Linked DNA regions of Homo sapiens: region 2 is linked to region 1. The links come from fine-mapping of genetic effects on gene expression. Tissue or cell type: whole blood. Region 1 holds a variant in brackets; the other region holds the start of a gene. All regions are shown on one strand. Distances are from middle to middle.

The links. PIP is the estimated chance that this variant, and not a neighbour inherited with it, causes the effect.
Region 2: it holds the start of MTIF3, and the variant in region 1 is fine-mapped to the expression of MTIF3 in whole blood (INTERVAL, PIP above 0.99).

Annotation. Positions count from the first base shown.
Region 1 is chr13:27,057,969-27,062,132 of GRCh38, reverse strand. LOC105370124 (a long non-coding RNA gene) reads left to right here. Exons shown (of 2, transcript XR_941767.3): 1 at 1-4,164. Among named protein-coding and RNA genes, the nearest start is that of USP12-AS1, 65 kb to the left of the region's middle. The variant T/AT (reference allele first, on the strand shown) is at 2,351.
Region 2 is chr13:27,448,263-27,452,426 of GRCh38, reverse strand. It overlaps MTIF3 (mitochondrial translational initiation factor 3), which reads left to right and starts at 1,863. Exons shown (of 5, transcript NM_152912.5): 1 at 1,863-1,918. RefSeq lists enhancers at 1,429-1,488, 1,509-1,868, 1,712-2,626.

The DNA of each region.
Region 1 (4,164 bases):
GACGGAGTCCTGCTCTGTCACCCAGGCTGGAGTGCAGTGGCGTGATCTTGGCTCACTGCAAGCTCCACCTCCCGGGTTCACACCATTCTCCTGCCTCAGCCTCCCGAGTAGCTGGGACTACAGGCACCCGCCACCACGCCTGGCTAATTTTTTGTATTTTCAATAGAGACGGGGTTTCACCATGTTAGCCAAGATGGTCTCGATATCCTGACCTCGTGATCCACCCACCTCGGCCTCCCAAAGTGCTGGGATTACAGGCGTGAGCCACTGCGCCCAGTAGATCACATGTTTTTTTTATCTTATCAGTGTGATATATTATAGTGTTTTTCATATGTGAAACTATCCTTGTACTCCAGGGATAAATCCACTCGGTTATTGTGCATAATACTTTTAGTACGCTGCTGAATTCAGCTTGCTAGTATTTTGTTGACAATTTTTCCATCAATATTGATCAGAGACTTTGGTCTGTAATTTTTATTTCTTGTAGTGTCTTTGTCAGGCTTTGGTGTGGGTAATGCTGCTGTCATAGAATGAGTTAGGAAATGTTCCACCCTCTTCAACTTTTTGAAAGAGTTTGAGACTATCAAAAGATTTTTTAGCAATAACCAGTACTTCCATCCTTACTGTAAGTCATTATTAAGAAAGATGAAGGCCTAGTTTTTGCTCTTGAGGAATTTGTCATATGAGAATGAATCAAAGGAAACCTAGAAAAATCAGCTGTATAAATGGACATATTTATACAACTCTACAGGGTAGGTGGAGGAATGCAGAGTAGGAAAGTATTGGTGAAATCACAGGGATGCAGTCAGATTGTCCAGCCCAAAATGGGAATCTGGAAATCAACAGCAGTCAAAGGGACTGGAAATACTAAGTATAATTGCAATTTAAGAATATTAACTTATGATACTATTGGGTAATAGAATTTCTAAGACTCCATCAAACTAAATTTTCCCCTTTCCTTTCCCTAAGGAAAGGCCCTAAATTACTCTTGAGGAATTCTCACTCAGGCAGCCACTGTAGAGCCCCAACTCCTGAGAAAAAGATTTTACTCTATTTTGTATCATATACATCTGTTATAATGCATCTAAATAACTGGATCCTTTAAAAATCATCTGTTCTGGCCAGGCGTGGTGGCCCATGCCTGTATTCCCAGCACTTTGGGAGGCCAAGGCAAGAGGATTGCTTAAGCCCAGGAGTTCGAGACCAGCCTGGGCAACACAGGGAGACCTTGTCTCTAGAAAATACAAAAAATTAGCCAGGTGTGGTGGTGTGCACCAGTAGTCTCAGCTACTTGGAGGCTTGAGCCCAGGAGGTTGAGACTGTAGTGAGCTATTATCACACCACTGCAACCCAGCTTGGATGACAGAGTGAGACCATATTTCAAAAAAGAAAAAAACCTGTTCTCAACAATTTGTCATATAATTAAACTGTGGTATAAAACATAACTGAGGAAAGCTCATACCTCCTGCTTGCTTTCCATTAGCCAAACTGTCTTAAGTAGTGCCGCTATATTGATTTGATCAAATCTGGATGATTAGTAGAATGTTTTGATTCCTGAGATTGATCCCTGAAGATTTTGATCCACTGCAGATGAGAAAACTAGTTTTCAGAAGTTCCCCGGTGATTCTGATCAGCTGGGTTTTGGTGATTAGAATTCCGTGGGATGCAATTCGTCTGGAGTTCTCTAGCGTGTTCCTGTAAGGTCTCTGCCAAGCCAGAGTTGATCTGACATGGGGAGAGTTGTCAGAAAACCAAATCATTTCAGGATTGCTCAGGGAAAACTTACACGGGGTGTAGCACCTGTCTTCTCATACATCGTTTGAAGAGCTGCTGTCTAGGGGATGTTTTGCTTCTAGGGTTGAATTGGGACTGCATTGAAAAGGACAGAGAGCCACATACTGAGTACAAGTAAGAGCTTCCTGGTTGTTCAGCAGGGAGAGGAGCTGACATACTAAGAAATAAAGTGTCAAACGTACGTCATTAGACTGTTCATAGGTGGGGTTCTTAACACTGGCTGGAACAAGCTTGTGCAACCCGCGGCCCATGGACTGTAGGCCGCATGTGGCCCAACACAAATTCATCAACTTTCTGAAAACATTATGAGATTTATACATGAACCTTTTAAAAAAATTTTTAGCTCATCAGCTATTGTTAGTGTATTTTATGTGTGGCCCAAGACAGTCCTTCCAGTGTGGCTCAGGGACGCCAAAATATTGGACACCCCTGGGCTAGAAGGTTGCGCAGGATAACCTTAAGCTTCTTCCCAGGTGAGGCAGCTAAGACTGGGGAACTTACCCAAGGTCACTGGTAAATGGCCAAGCTAGTGCCTGAGCATATATATATATATATT[T/AT]TTTTTTTTTTTTTTTTTTTTTCGAGATGGAGTCTTGCTCTGTGTCACCTAGATTGGACTACAGTGGCATGATCTTGGCTCACTGCAACCTCTGCCTCCCGGATTCAAGCAATTCTGTCTCAGCCTCCCGAGTAGCTGGGATTACAGGCGCCTGGCTCATTTTTGTATTTTTAGTAGAGACAGGGTTTCACCATGTTGGCCAGGCTGGTCTCGAACTCCTGACCACGTGATCCACCTGCCTGGGCCTCCCAAAACGCTGGCGTTTTGGACCTGGGCCCATATTTTCTATTCCAGGGCTCATATTTAGTTCTGCATTATGCTGTCCTTTGTCCTTTAAAATAGCTGGACCTAGAGTGCTGTAACACACTATAGGGAGAGTTTACATTGCCACTGGTCATTAGGATGGCAACTATCCCATCACCAGTTCCTGACTAGAACAGAGGTGGGTTGAACAAAACACCAGTCTGAAGATTTTAGAGTGGCAGTCAAGTTTATATCACCTTCAGTGTGAGCAGGCGGGGTGGTGTCAAAGTGACATTACTGGTGTTGGGTAAGTCTATGCTGCATTAATAAAACACTTCCCACCATCTCTCAAAACACCTTCCTTTGAAGATTCAGGTTCTTCAGACTGAGGAGCCTCTGAATCGTGACTAGCTTGATAGAAGACTTTACATTAAAAAGTAACTGAGAGATGGTCTATTCACCTTGCATGACTGTGCTATCTTTAATCATCAATCTTTGAAGTGCACACTGGGTCATTCGTAAGCAAGATTACAGAGAATAAAATAGAATTTTGATACCACTGTATTCGCCATGTCATTACAAAGTCTGTATCCACTGTCAGGCCCAGAAACAAGACAGTAATATACTGTCTGCACATTTTGAGATGAGAAATGCAATGATTGTGTTGTTTTTAAACTAGTTGCTGGAACTTTTTTTTTTTTTTTTCTGGTAGCTTTTTCCTTCAGTTAGAAACCATTTTCCAAACAATATTCTTAGGCTACAAAAATGAATGTTTTTGTGGGTGGACTTTTACTGGATGCTAGTTATTTATAACCTATTGAAGTTTTACATTTAAGAAGGAAAAATGATAGAATGAGGAGGAAAGTAGACATAAAATTTCATGTCAATGGAATAGATTATTATTCCGTTAGATACAATAGATTATTATTCCATTAGATGTAATGGAAACCTCAGAAAACAGCTGCAAATAAGCATCTGACTTATTTTCCCAATACTACATATGTTTATCATTCCCTAAATCATCAGTTGTTGCATTTTGATTAAATTGGTTTGTTGAACACATGTATTTTTAAATTTTCTGCAAAAAACAAATTCCTATCATGAACACAAAGTAGGGGCATCGCAGTATCTGGATTTCTACACATTATTTGTACTCTGTATTTTACTACCTATTAAACTATTGATTAGAACTGATTTGAAATTCCATTAATTTACCTTTCCGCGTGTGAAGTTACAAATCGAGATGAGGTTTAGGATCCTGTGCCACAGTGTGCAGGGGTTGGGAGATGAGTCCTTGTAGAAGATACTGCTGGGTGTGGAGCAGAGTTCAGAAGGTGACAAGCCTTAACCATGGGAGGGAGTCCTAGGGGAGGATGCCTGCGCTTCCCTGGCTTGCACAGCTAGGTCAATGGAGGAGGCTTTTGCTGAGAATCTAGGAAGAGAACCAGCTTTGGGGGCATGAGTGTTTCATGGTATGGATGTACCACAGTTTACCAGCATTCGCTTTTAATAAATTGACCTTGCTCAGCAGTTCTGGGAGCTGTAATGGAATGAGAATAATTGGAATTCAC
Region 2 (4,164 bases), 390 kb before region 1:
ACTGCACTCCAGCCTGGGCGACACAGAGAGACTCCATCTCCAAAAACAAAACAAAACAAAACAAAACAAAAAAACAAAAAACCCCACAAAAGCTGCCAAGCTCCATTTCGGCTGGAGGTCAAAGAAGAGTTCAAGGGAAAAGATGAAAAAAATGGCTTCTCTCCATCTGTGGGCATGTCTGTAATTGCCACCCCATCTCTGCATGTCTCCTCCCAGGAACACTAAAGCACCATCTTCTAGGCGTGGAGACATCTGACAATGGAAGTCTAGAAAGCTTCCTAAACCACCTGCTCTGGACACAGCTGCCTTCAAAGACGGACTGCAAATGGATGCTGGCCGGTAGCTTCAGTTACCAGTGATTACTTGGTGTGAATCTACCTGTGCTATTACCTTAGCAAATTTTAAGTCTTTAGTTTGGGCATTAAATGTTTCAGTTACTTGTACATACTTCACATCCTTTTAATGTTTTCATGGACTCGTACTGTTTACTGTTTCTCTCACTACTTCAGTCTAGCAATGCAAGGAACATTTAAAGTTTGCCTGGGTTTGGGGTTTTTTGGCTTTTTTATTCTTGATTCTGCTACTAGTTGTGCGACCTTGGGCAAATTTGTTTCAGTTCCCTCATCTGTAAAATGGGTAATAATAATAATTGGCTCATAAGGTTGTCCTGAAGATTGAATAACTTGAGATATGTTCAGTGCGTAGAACAGTGTCTGGCACATAGGCAAAAGCAATCACAAATGTGGGCAATTATAATTGCTGAGCACCTAACTTTTCCCAGGTATTGTGCTACTCAGTCTGTCCCCGAATCTACGTCACACAAAATATCTTGGCATTGAGAAATAATTTTGATAGAATAAAATGAATCCTTAATTCTTCTTGATTAACTTGGAAATGGCCAAGATGCACACCTGGACTTTCGGTCTCACACAAGAGTTGTTTCATTACCTCCCTATTTTAACAGTGAGCGTCGAGCTACCAGCAGCTAAAAAGGAAATGGAGATTTCGTCTTTGCTCCCAAAGAACTATTTAAAGCTTTAGTAGTTGTGTCATCTGTAATAAAAGACGTAATGCTGACTCAAGGAGTTAATGAGAAATAAGACAACGCCTTCCAGTGGACAAGTAGCCAATAAATGTTAGTTTTTCTTCGTACCAGGAATCCAAACATTCCAGGTATGAAGCCAGATTAGGTGGCTTCACGACTGTGGACTCGCAGTCTGCCCTTGAGGAATTTCTTATTGAAGAAGAAAAAGAGGGGGGACACGGGGCCCAGACCCCCAGCACCCGGCTTTCGAGCAGGCTCCACGGGTCCGGGTCCGGGTCCGTTTTCCCTTTCGCCAGCTGGGGCCCCGTTCGAACCTCTCCCAACTACAACGCGGAGGCTCCGACGCCCCGGCCCCAGCTTTGTTTTGCCTCCGGGAGCCGCGCGCCACCGGGGACCCGCGGGGAGCCGTTCTCACTCCGAAGCTGTCTGCTCACCTGCAAATCGGAGACAGCGCCCTTTCACTTACGATCCTTATAAAAGACGCTTATAAAACATTTTATTCAGTGTTACATTAAAAAGACGTTTATGAAAGCAATTTATAAAGCCCTAGTGGGAGACCGAGATTGGTGTTAATGTAACTGGAGTAAGGGCTGCTCCGATTGCTGCAGAAATTCGACATTAGCCTTCACCGCACCTGCGGAGCAGCGGGAGCCAGGTGAGCAGCAATTTCCCCTCAGGGACTTCCTCCGCGTTCTCCGCATTTTCTGTCGGCGGAACTGAATCCCAACAGTAGAAAAACGTGGCTCCGCCCATCACCTTTCCTTTAAAGGACGCGGGGTGAAGCCCCGCCCACTACGGAGAGCGAAGGGGACTCGCCGCAGATCCGCTGTACTTGCGTCCGCTACAGTATGTCAATCGCTTGCCCCAGCACAGGTAATGCTAAATATGAGGCGTGCGGAGCGGTGCGCGGACCGGCATCGGGAGGGCGTGGCCTTAGGGGGCGCCCCTGTGGAGGAGGCACCCGGAAGGTCAGGGCTACCCCGTCCCGCCGGTACCGAGGGCGGAGAGGCTCCGCAGGTCCTGCTGCGGAGTCGGAGGGTTCTGCCGGGCTGTAAAGCCATTTTCAGCGAGGCCGCTGCACGAACTTCCGAGGGATGTTAGACCTAGAGTTGCCGCCAGCCCCACTGAGCTTTTCTAGTTCCGTCCCGACATGCGCGCCCTCGTTTGTGCGCACGCACGCACGCAGTACGTCGCTACGTCCCGTCTCTAGCCCTGGCGCTCCGCCGGTCCCGTTCTGCAGGTGGGCGTCGCCGCCGACTTACCAACAACCGGGTCGGGGGCTCCCGGAAGTGCTCTTGCGGCTTACTGCCTGGCACAGGTGGGGCAGAGCGAGCCAGGCGAAGGGCGCCTGCGCAGGACATGCTGGACAAATGCGTTGTTCTTGCTGCCTGCTGTTGCGGGAGGAGGCCTTATGGGGGAAGGTCGCGAAGTGACTGGGATTTTTTTTCTCATTTGTCATTTAGTGGGCTCCGTGGCTTAAGACTTGAACCAAGTAAACGAAGTTCTCTTACTGAGAAGTCTCAGTTTCAAGTACGTGTTGTGAAAGGCCTAAGTCTTAGAAAAGTAGAGGATGGAGAGAAGAATCTGAAAATCGACTACTATTCATTCTGTCAGGCACAACACAGTAACGAATAAGTCCATTTTGTTCCTGCTTCGTAGAGTTTACGGTCTAGTGATGGAGAACAGCAGTGCTAAGATCATCACAAAACTGTAATTGTAATGAATGTTTTAAAGGAAAGGTCAACTGGACTGTAGAAGCATTCAGTGTTAAGCTCAGTAAATTGGGGGAGGGATGGGAGAACTGGCTTAGTTTGGAAGGTAATCAGAAGAATGCGCTAAGGATCTGGCGTTTCCTAAACCAAGGACGAGAGTACTGTATTTCAAAAACCGAATGGCCAGTGTGGCCTAGGCATAAAGAAGAAACTGGAGAGGTGGGAAGGGCCTTTTGGCCTGGCGAAGGTGTAGATCTTTAATCTCGGGGCAGTTTTATTTAAGGTGAGGAAGGTCCTGGGTGTAGTGACCGCAGTGCAGTGGGAACTGGTTGCCAGGGCTCAAGCCGAGTTAGGAGACTGGCAGGAATCCAAACGAGGTGGTCGATGTTTTAAACTGACGGTGGTGACAGTGGATACGGAGAGGACTGGATGGATTCGAGTGGGGTTTAGGAAATGAAGTCGATGAGGCTTGGTGTTGGGTTGACTGGGAAAGTGGAGGCGTCAAAGGTGTCTTGGAGGTGACTGGAGGTTGTGGATGGGTAGTGATCCCATCACTAGAGTTCTGGAAGAAGACTAACATAGGATTAACATAGGAGAATAAGTTAAAAAAAAATTTTTTTTGAGAGTCTCACCCTGTTGCCTAGGCTGGATGCTTAGGCTGGAGTGCGGTGCACGATCTCAGCTCATTGCAACCTCTGCTTCCCGGGTTCAAGTGATTCTCCTGCCTCAGCCTCCCAAGTAGCTGGGAATACAGGCTCACGCCACCAGGCCCGGCTAGTTTTTTTGTATTTTTAGTAGAGATGGGGTTTCACCATGTCGGCCAGGCTGGTCTTGAACTTCTGACCTCAAGTGATCTGCCTTCCTCAGCCTCCCCAAAGTGCTGGGATTACAGGCGTGAGCCACCGTGCCCGGCCGTAAGTCCAGTTTTTAATACAGAGTCTTTAGCTCTGGGTTTAAAAGCTTTTTAAAACATATGGTTATTATTTCAATTTAATAGCTAAAGAAATAAGGTTAAATAGTTGGCCAAAGATATAATGTTGGCTTTTTCCAGTGTTCTAAATGGGAGTTCTAGCACGTAAACAGCTCAGCCTCATTATGGAGAGTACACTTTGTGCTCCCTATGGAAGAGCAAAACCAGAGCCAAGGGAGGGGAGCATGAAGGCCCAGTAACGGTAGCGCAGGCCCTCTGGGATTAAGGCTGCACTGCTCAGGCCAGAATGGGGCAACTGGGACAGTTTGCAGGCAGAAGCAAGGACTTTATGAAACTTCTTTGGAAGGTGTAAAAGAGTTCTTAGAGTCATGAGAATTGGCAAAATTAATTTCACAAATATTTAGTCCGCTAGAATCTATGCAACTTTGATCCAATCTCCCAGGAAAGAACAGATAACAGTATGAGCTTGTGAATAT